2 separate regions of the Homo sapiens genome follow, and region 1 is linked to region 2. The links come from fine-mapping of genetic effects on gene expression. Tissue or cell type: amygdala. Region 2 holds a variant in brackets; the other region holds the start of a gene. All regions are shown on one strand. Distances are between the middles of the regions.

Region 1 (5,114 bases), 450 kb after region 2:
GGCATGAGCCACCACTCCCAGCCTAAAAAACCATTTTTCGAAAGTTGCCTGTACCAGCGGAGGCAGAAATTGCAGTCACTATTCTGTGGTGGCTCATCTGCAAACCTTCCTGGCTTGGTGGAGAGGAAGCCTGCACCGTCCTTCCTGTTAGGAGAGAACAGCTCAGTGCATGACACATTAGGGGTGGGTCACACATCCTGCGGACTCATGAACCTCCAAATTAGGCAGCTAATTATTCTGAGGATTCCAAGTCACATTTAAAATCAGCGTCAGCTGAAGTAAAATCAGATGAGTAATTTGCTTCCGGAATGCGAAACACACAACGCAGACTGCTGCTACTTCTTGGGAAGCTGGGCCCGGCCCTCTCAGGAGCACCAGGCTGGGGGTAATGGCCATGACCCTGTCCTGGGAAGGAATAGGGGCCATTCACCTCAGGTTAGGTTGGGTCCTGACTAAGGTGCAAGACTCACGTCAGGATCACACAACCCCTGAGGGTCAAAGGGCAGAGGTGGAGGAAGGACAGAGCAAAGACGGTAGGTCCGACCTGTACAGGGAGTGTTCAGCCCCAAGAAGAGAGACATGAGGGGCAGCATCCCACAATCTTCCACAGGAAGTGCCCTCATTCTGAGAAAGACAGCTGTCAAGTAAGGCACATGACAAGAATAGAAGCAGCTGGGGCAGTGAGGTGGAATCAGAGTCCAGAGGGTCTACAGATGGGCTAAGGGATGCTCAAGGAAGCTCTGTAGAAAGTCTCTCTAGGAGCTTAAAGCCCACGGCCTGGAATGTGAAAGGAAGGGAGTTGGTGGAAGGCTGCTTAGAGTTAGGGGAGTCGGGCATCATGCCAAGAGTGAGCAGATGAACCCCTTTCTACTCCTGGGAGAATGTCCATCCTTCACGTCACTCTGATCATGTGTAGCTGGGCAACTCTTCTTCTCCACACTCTGCTGGCCTTCTCTCCTGACTCCATCAAAGAACATCTCACCTTCTGAATAGATCAAACCTACCTTGGAGTCTCAGGTTAGAAAAAAAGATTACTTTCTTCATTCACCTGTTAACACCCGGCTGGCTTCCCTGCCTTTCCCAGTGCGTGTCAGAACTTCTTGCTAGGATCTACTCACTCATGCTCCTGCTCCCAGGTCTTAGGGTCTTAGAAATACAAATTCATGGCTGGACTCGGTGGCTCATGCCTCTAATCCCATCACTTTGCGAGGCCGAGGCAACAGGATGGCTTGAGCCCAGGAGTTTGAAACCAACCTGGGCAACATGGCGAAACTCCCTCTCTACAAAAAAAAGTTAGCTGGGCATGGTGGCATGCATCTGTGGAGGCTGAAGCAGGAGAACAGCTTGAGACCCGGAGGTCAAGGCTGCAGTGAGCCGTGATAGCTCCACTGCACTCCAGCCTGGGCAGTAGAGCAAGAAAAGAAAAGAAAGAGAGAAAGAAAGAGAAAAAGAAGGAAAGAAAGAGAAAGAAGGAAAGAGAGAGAGAGAAAGGAGAGACAGAGAGAGTAAGAAAGAAAGAAAAAAGAAAAAAGGAGGGAGGCGGGGCAGCAGAAAGAGGAAGAAAACAGAAAGAAAGAAAGACAAATTTATTTAAATATCAAAACAAAAGAGAAACTGAACTAGTGGTAGAAGTTTCTACCATAGAAAGTTTTCAAATTATTGGCTATTTGGAGTCATGCGCGCTCCTTCTCTGTTGCTAAGGCCCCAAAAGATTGCAGCACACGAGGCAGCGCCGGAGAGGACCACTGAGCAGCACGGGCCCTGGCGGGGTAATTCCGAACACCGGCTTAGGAGGCGGGTTTACCAGGATTCTCATTCCAGCCCTGCCACTAATTGTTCAGGGTTCTCAAGGTCGAGCATGCACAAAATCACCCGGAGGGCTTTTAAAACACAAGTCGCCGGGCCCAACCCGAGTTTCGGAATATTTAGGTCTGCGGTGGGGCCCATTTCTTTTCTTTTCTTTTCTTTTTTTCTTTTTTTTTTTTTTTGATACGGAATCTCGCTCTGTCGCCAGGCTGGAGTGCAGTGGCGTGATCTCGGCTCACTGCAACCTCCCCCTCCCGAGTTCAAGCGATTCTCCGGCCTCAGCCTCCCGAGTAGCTGGGATTACAGACGCCCGCCACTACGCCCAGCTAATTTCTTGTATTTTTAGTAGAGACGGGGTTTCACCATGTTGGCCAGGCTGGTCTCGAATTCCTAACCTTGTGATCCGCCCGCCTCGGCCTCCCAAAGTACTGGGATTACAGGCATGAACCACCGCGCCCGGCCAAAATTTCTAATAAGTTCTCAGGTGATTCTGACTGGCGCTGCTGGTGGGGGATCCCACTTTGAGAAACACCCTCTGCTGTGTGAGCAGCTGCCTCCCCGGTACATTCGGAATAATCATAGTAGGTTTAAAGTTTGCTGGGGCTGGGATTCACCTGATACCTGGCACTTGGAGCCCTTGACACAGTTCATGGCACACGGAATACGAGCTCTTGTTGGATGGAGCACAAATGAGAAGCAAACCTGGGGCAGGACCCCGGGGCCCATGGCCGCCCCGCCGCGTTTCCCCCTCCGGGGCAGGCCTCCGGGCTCCGAGCGCTCCAGGCTGGCGCGCAGCACATTCCGGTTCCATGCACCCGCCGCCCGCGGCTCTGCTAATGCCTGTCCTCTTTGGGGTGACTAGGACCCTCCAATCTTTTTCCGCGCTGAAAGCCTGGCCGCAAAGACCGCACCCCCGGGGCGGGCTGAGACGCAGAGAAGCCGGGGCGCCCCTCTGCCGGTCCGCCGGGAGTTCCCGGGCCCGCAGCAGGCTGAGGACACGGCGGGACCCGCTGCACCTGGCCAGGGAGGGGCGGGGCGGGCGCGTTAGTGCAGCTGGGGGAGGTCCCGCCCCGGTCCCACCCTCCCGGCCGTCCGGTGGGGAAACCCGGGAGCCACCCCGCGGCGCGGCTGCGGCTTTGCCTCGGCGCGACAGGTAAGCGGCAGAAGGAGCCCGCGACCCTCTCCCCGGGAGGGCCCCCCTGAGCTCCCCGACTGCTCGGACTTCCCTTCGGCGGATCTCGCTTCTGCCGAGTCCTCGCTCTCACCTCCTCCTCCGCCAGCCTTCGCCTCTTCCTCTTCCTCCTCACTACCCCCGACAGTAAAATGAAGGGGCTGGGCCAGGCTGGTCCCTCCTGCCTTCGCTCTCTGCTGGTCGCGGTGGCCTGTAGCTCCTCCCTCGGTAGGACCCCCCTCCACCTTGGCGCTTACGAGATGAATGAGGAGCCCAGACCTCTGGAACTTGGAGGGGTGAGAGGGGGACAAGCCAGAGCCAGGGCTCCACACCCTCTTCCCCTCACCCACCCATGCCCTGCATTCCTTCTGTGCCCCGTCTCCCCAGATCGGGCCACCCCATGTGCTCTGGTACGGCAACTCTTGCAGAGAGGTTTCCTCCTGCCCTGCCACGTTGCGCCTGAGCAGAAGGGGACAGCAAGGAGAAGCCTCGCTGGTGGAGGTCGGTCTGAGCCCTGCTTGGTTGAATTCCCTCCAGAGCCTGGGGGCTTTTGGGGGTGGGAAGGGATCTGCCTCCTGCTGTGGGGAAATGGAATCTGCTGGGTGTTCATGACTGTGACTGTCACCGACTTCCCTATTTCCTCAGTTGTTCAGATTCCCAGGCTGACAAAAAGGAGAAACAGCTTTTACTTGCATCCAGGGCCAATCATCGCAGACCCAGACGTCTGCAGAGGGTAGGATGGGGCTCTTCTGTGTATGGGGGTGGAGGGTGGTCAGTTTGCCCACAAAGCTTACAGCAGACCCCTTCTAGCAGCCGACAACCCATTGCAGCACTCTCAGAAAGGATGTTAACTCTGTGCTCTGAGCTCGCCCCCAGGCCCACACACACAATTTACAGGCACTGGGTGAGGTTCATAGTTCTGGACACACCAAAGAGCCTCGAGGACTTTTGCGCCTTCTACCAGAGATGTGTGTGCACCACACAGGCCCTATTCTCCGCTCCAGACAGATGAGCTGTCTCCCTTCCCATCAAAGGAAAGGTTAAGAAGGATGAGACAGGGAAATTCATGTGATGATGAAAACCAGGTCAGGTGAGGGGTTTGAAATATGCTTTGGTTCCGGCCACATGTGGTGGCTCATGCCTGTAATCCCAGCACTTTGGGAGGCTGAGGCTGGTGCATCACCTGAGATCAGGAGTTCGAGACCAGCCTGGCCAACATGGCAAAACCCCATCTCCACAAAAAATACAAAAAGTTAGCCGGGCATGGTGGCAGGCGCCTGTAATTCCAGCTACTTGGGAGGCTGAGGCAGGAGAATTGTTTGAACCTGGGAAGCAGAGGTTGCAGTGAGCTGAGATCGCACCATTGCATTCCAGCCTGGGCAATAAGAGCAAAACTCTGTCTCAAAAAAAAAAAAAAAAAAAAAAAGAAAGAAAGAAAGAAAGAAATATGCTTTGATTCCAATTGCCTAGCAGGAGCCAGTAGCATTGCAGGCATTTCCCTAGCTCCAGTTCCTTAATGGTGCCATGCACTTTAGGAACCCAGAGGTAATCAGAGAAAGTTGCTTCCAGGGGCACCAGGGCAGAGAACAGGACAAGACCCTCAAAAGAAAGAGGGAAGTGTGCAGGAGACTGGGCTGCTCAAGATGACCTCACCTCAGTAATGCTGCCCACAGTCCTACAGTGGGTGGAACAGCTGACTCCTACCTGTAGCAGCATGGAAGAACTCAGGGCAGAGAAGGGGAGGCCCTGATGTGTGTCAGGTGCCCTGTGAGGTCAGAAACATATTTGCCCAAGTTCAGCTGGAAGAAGTGGGGACAGGAAATATGAGCATGAACTTAGTCCATGCAACCATTGCCTCGAACAGACCTCAGGACCAGGAGGGGCAGCTAACCCTAGGGCTGAGGGCCTCTCAGTGCAGGGAGGCAGTGAGTATCATGAAGGCAGGCAGCTGACTCAGCCCTGTCACTAACTTCGATATATAATCTTAGCCAAAACACATAAACACTCCCTGGGTGGGGAGCAAATGAGAAGGTGTATATGAAGTGTTTTGGCAAAGCTCCAAGCACCAGTCAAATGCAAGACAATGTGATGTCATAGTTAAGAGAGTGGGCTTTGGAGATACATAGGCCTGAATGCA
Region 2 (5,197 bases):
CCTCAGCCTCCCAAGTAGCTGGGATTACAGGCATGTGCCACCACACCCAGCTAATTTTGTATTTTTAGTAGAGACAGGGTTTCGCCATGTTGGTCAGGGTGGTCTTGAACTCCCGACCTCAGGTGATCAGCCTGCCTCAGCCTCCCAAAGTGTTGGGATTACAGGCGTGAACCACCGTGCCTGGCCAATGTTATTAATTCCCTTTGTAGCCCCATGTATTTTTCTTTTATGCATTGAGGAAGTATTTTTGAGAACAGGTCATAGGTTTTCCAGACTGCGAAAGGGGCCTAAGGCTGAAAGTGGTGAAGAGCTCTGGCCTCATCCTCCATCTCTCGCCCATGCAGGGCCAAGTCCCAGGCAAAGAGGAGCCCCAGATGCAGACCCAAGAGGAGACAGGCACTGGAAGGACCTCACCAGCCCCAGATCACAGGGCCACCCCAAGTGGACAGAGGACAGTCCATGGCGGCCTCCACTGAGCACCTGCGCCCTCCCCGCAGTGCCCATCACTGAGTGCACAGGTGTGAGGCTGCGTTGTGTGCTAGAAACAGAGCCTCAGGGAGGGGAACTGACTTCAGACAGGGCAAAGCGCAGAGTCAACTGCAAATCCCTGTTCCTCAATGAAAAAGCAAGTCATCTTTTTAAAAAGTAATTGCTGACAAAAAGTCATGACTATCATTAAAAAGTCCAGGTCATCCTCGTTCCCAGTGGCCCTGCTCTTTCTACCACTGTGTGTCAGGGAATGTTTTCTGAGGGAGGGGACTTTGGGAAGGAGCAGGTCAGGGTAGAGAGAGAGCTGCAGAAAGGGCTAGAGAGCCACTTGTACCAGGGCTCACAGACAGGGGCTGGCTGAGCAGCGGAGGGAATGGGAACCCAGTTAACAAGTGATGTCACCTCTAAATTGGGCATTGGAGTGGAAGGGCAGAAGTGCCTGGAACATGCTTCGGGGCACCAAAGAGGGAGACAGGAACAGCCTCAGAGAGAATGGGCTGATGTGACTGGAGGAGCTGGAAAGGGCCCGAAGCTGGAAGGAAGGACAGACTCATCCACCTCTGGTGCCAGGCTGAAGGGTTAACATCGTCTCTGTGCTTGGTAGGAGGCTGAGTCTGTTTTAGACAGAAAGACCACCCTAGCAGCCACACAGAAGAAGGATTAGGAAGGCAGAGAACAGAGGCAGAATTCAGAGGTGGGGCCAGCTGTGGTGGGGAACATGAGAGCTGTGGGTTGTTTTAGAGAGAGTGTTAACCTGACTTCATGGCCAGCTAGATGAGTGGAGGCTGGAGAGACAGACACAGGGACTCCTAGGTTTCCAGCCTAGCTGAAGAGATGGAATCGGGAGAGAGGAGGTGGAGATGTTTTCCTTGGGCATGTTGAGTCTGAGGTCTCTGTGGACCCTCCCAGAGGGTCCTAAGATTCTCACCTAGATTCCTACCTCTCCTCTTAAGATTCCCGGGGACAGTGAAGAATGTGGCTCAAGACCAAGTTACGTCTGGGCACAGTGGGCTGTCAGGAGGGACTTGAAGCAGGAGTATGAGACTTGCCTGGCAGTTTCTAAGTGGCAGAGGGTGGGCTGGGGGGGTCATGGGAGGGCCCTGGTGCTCCTCCCTCTATTAGCAGAGGAGAGGCTGGTGACAGATGTCCCAGGACACAGGTCAGAGCAGCCAGGGGTCAGGCGAGGACATCCTGGGAAGCTGTGGTTTGGGACTGTATTTTCAGTGACGGTCAGCTGGTCAGGGCAGGACAGGGAACTCATTCCTGCAAGGCAGAGCTCTTCTGGGGCCCCGCAGGCAGCTCCAGGATTATGTTTTCTCTTTGGAGTCCTCTGTCAAATGAGTTGGGTCCTTCTGGGCCTGGAGAGCAGCCCCCCCACCTCTTTCCCAGGCCACTGCACCTAGCCAGTCTCTAGGAGCGAGTTGGAGCCTGCCCTGGGTCCTGCATGGGTGGCCCCTCTAGCTAGTCAGGAAAGTTCCACCTCTCCTTCACTGCCCTCAGGCCAGCCTGTGAGGGGGATGCTGCCTCTCCACCCCCCATTTCACAATGGAGGAAACAGATCAAGACATTGTCCCACATCTCAGAGGCTGACTCTGAGGCCAGTGCTCACTCCCTGCAATACCTGAGTCATGGGAGGGGGAAGGGCTGGCTAGAGTGGGCTCAGAGACCCCTGCAAGCCGTGGGTCAGTCTTTCAGGTTGCCCTTCAGACACCTGCCTTACCCAGGTTACTAATGGGTACAGGCTCTATTGGGGTGGGGTACCTGGAGCAGCCAGTGAAGTGGAGAAAGGGGAGAAGGGAAGGAGTATGTCTCACCGTAGAACAGGCTCACACCACAATCCTCCCAGCAGCCTGCTGAGGGGACTGAATGAGACAATGGAGATCCAGCTCCCAGCCCAGTGTGCAGTGGCCTCTGGGAAGCACACAGACAGGGCAGCCCTTACTCCTTTCTTCCCCCAGGGCCCAGGAGCTGACATCCATCTCTGACCTGCTCCAACATAGCTCACATGTAGTGAGAAGTGGGGTGTGGTGTGGTGGGCAATTCCCAGCCCCAAAGACTCGCTTTCCCCGGCCTCCATGAACACTTCTAGTGGCCCATGCAGCTCACCTCGAGCAGGTGGGAAGGAGAAGGAGAATCAGCCTTGCTAATCCTCCTGGAGGTGTGACTGGCTGACAGCCTGGAGCCTCCCAGAAGTTCCATTTGGTTTAAAAGAGAATCCTTCTTAACCAGAATGGTGTTCTCTTGGTGAAATTGCAGGCAGCCTAACCAAGGGGAGCAAACAACACCTAGGCAAGAGGGAGACACGTTGTGTTTTCTTTGGTGGCAGGGACTAGGGTAATAACAAGGCTATTTCTCTCTACCTGCTTTCTCCCAGAAGATGGGCTGGGGACAGAGCACCAGCCTGGAGCCCCTTGTGTTCCTGGATATTGCCTAGCTTTGGGGTGAGACAAGACAGTGGAAGGAAGGTGGCCTGAGCATCCCAGGGCAGCTTTTGGTGGAGGGTCCAGAGAAAACGTGGAGGGGCTGTTGGGAAGAAGGGGG[T/C]GGGGAGGAGAGGAGAGCTGGAAAAGTGATTAGCAGCTCTGATGAGGTTGCAGTCGGGCCTGGCGGCCCCAGGGCAACACAAGAGAAAAAAGGAGCTGTTATTCACAGAGGGTGGACAAAGATGGCTGCCTGACTGAGGCAGCCCCCCAGCCCATCCCAAGGCAGCCAGGTCACAGGGGGTACCGGCAGGCCCCACGCCCTTGGCATGGATACCCCTCATGGGGATTGGGAATGGGACTGAGGCTGTAGGGAAAACATTGGGAGCCTGCGTCCTATGTCCAGTTCCCAGCTCCCCCGGACCTTCTTTGAGAGCAGGAGAGGCCCAGGAGCCACCCCCAACCTCCTGGGGTAGTAGATGGGCTGTTTGATCAGTGAGTGTGTAAATTGGGATTTTATGGATCGCTTATTCACGGCTGGAGCTGGGGCCCCCAAATTCCTCTGTGCCCCAGAATGCTTAATCTAGTCTTGAGCTTCCCCCTGAGAGGCAGACGGGAGGAGAGCTCCCCACAGGCCCCCACCCCTCCTGCTGTGTCCCCTCCCAAGGCCCCAGGCTTTGTCAGTTGCAGGTTGAGCGGTTCAAATGTGCTAATACACTCCCTGGGGGCCACCGGACAGTGGGACTTACTCCTCAGTGCTGTGATTGGCCAGAGAGACCACAGGAGGGGGGTTTCTGGCAGCAGCTGGGAGTGTGTGTGTCTGCGCACCCACCCACCGGCATGTGCGCCTGTGTGAGGGGAGGAGGGGGCTGGGGGTGTCCACCCTGCTCAGACCACTGGGCAGAGACAAAGGACCTTCATCTAGCCTGGGACGAGGATTAAGCCCACCAGCCATGTCCCTACCTGGTCAAGCTGGTTAGGAAGTCCACTGCCCACCTCTACATCCTCCTATTACACTGTGACATGGTGGGGGCTTATTCAATGTGTGTTGAATGGATGGATGGATGAGTGACCACAAGAGTGACTGCATTTCTAACTGGGGTGTGTCTGCTGGGATAATCCGGCACCAACAGATTCCTCCATCTCCCCTTAGGATTCTGAAGTATCCGCCCCCCACCAACAGAGACTCACTTTAGCCCAGGCCTGACCAGACATCAAGGCTGGACATGAGAGACTGGCCAGGCCTCGGGGGACACAGCTGTGACCCCCGGACTGTGTTACCACTTGAGAGTGCTTTCACTGTGGTCACGTTTCTCCCTCTCTGCTGGCCCCCATCTGTCCTTGGGATTGGATGAGGATGAGGATGGTGGGCGGGGTGGGGGAGGGGTGTTGAGCAGCTGATGGGGGAGGGCAGCGCAGCCCAAAGGCCAGATGACAGAGTGCCCTGTCCTACCTTCCTCTCCTCCTCCTCCGCCTGTCCCTCCTCTCCTGAGGCAGGGCAGACAGGCGGGGCTGGGGCGGAGGGAGTTGACTCAGCTAGCCCATCCTCCCTCCCCTGGTTCTAGGGAAAGCTCCAGTCCAGGGTAGCTGTAAAACTGCCTGGGAATCCTAGGAAAAGAAGCCTGCAGGGCACGGTGGCTCACTCCTGTAATCCCAGCGCTTTGGGAGGCTGAGGTGGGTGGATCACCTGAGGTCAGGAGTTCGAGACCAGCATGGCCAACATGGTGAAACCCTGTCTATACTAAAAATACAACAATTAGCCAGGTATGGTGGTGCACGCCTGTAATCCCAGCTACTCAGGAGGCTGAGGCAGGAGAATCAATCACTTGAACCCAGGAGGTGGAGGTTGCAGTAAACGGAGATCACGCCACTGCACTTCAGCCTGGGTGATAAGAATGAAACTCTGTCTATAAAAAAAAAAAAAAAAAGAAGTCTAGATCCGCAGGAAGTCTACCTAAAGACCTTAAGAAGCGAGACTCCATAGAAGTTCAAGATAGAGCAGCTCCGTCCGATAGAACTTTCTATGGTGATGGAAAGGTTCTGTGTCTGTGATGTCTACTACAGTGGCCACTTCCACATACGGTTGTTGAACATATGGAATGTGGCTAGTACCACTGAGGAAGTAAAATTTTTATTTTATTAAATTTTAATGTCTGCAAATTTAAATAGTTACATGGGGCTAGTGCCTGTCATTGGACAGTACAGGATTAGAGGCTGTGTTCAGGGCTGAAGCAAAGTCCTTGAGTGCAAGTGCCAATTCTGCCCCTTTTGGGCTGGTGGCCTTGGGCAGG

Evidence for each region. PIP is the estimated chance that this variant, and not a neighbour inherited with it, causes the effect.
Region 1: GALNT6 starts here. The variant in region 2 is fine-mapped to the expression of GALNT6 in amygdala (GTEx, PIP 0.96).

Annotation. Positions count from the first base shown.
Region 1 is chr12:51,389,446-51,394,559 of GRCh38, reverse strand. GALNT6 (polypeptide N-acetylgalactosaminyltransferase 6) reads left to right here and starts at 3,154. Exons shown (of 12, transcript NM_007210.4): 1 at 3,154-3,273; 2 at 3,623-3,710. It also overlaps a transcript of SLC4A8 not described here. RefSeq lists enhancers at 674-763, 2,807-3,391, 3,392-3,977, 4,939-5,028 and a silencer at 2,582-3,121.
Region 2 is chr12:51,835,443-51,840,639 of GRCh38, reverse strand. The region is part of intron 1 of FIGNL2 (fidgetin like 2); the gene reads left to right. Among named protein-coding and RNA genes, the nearest start is that of FIGNL2-DT, 10 kb to the left of the region's middle. RefSeq lists an enhancer at 3,609-4,560. The variant T/C (reference allele first, on the strand shown) is at 3,031.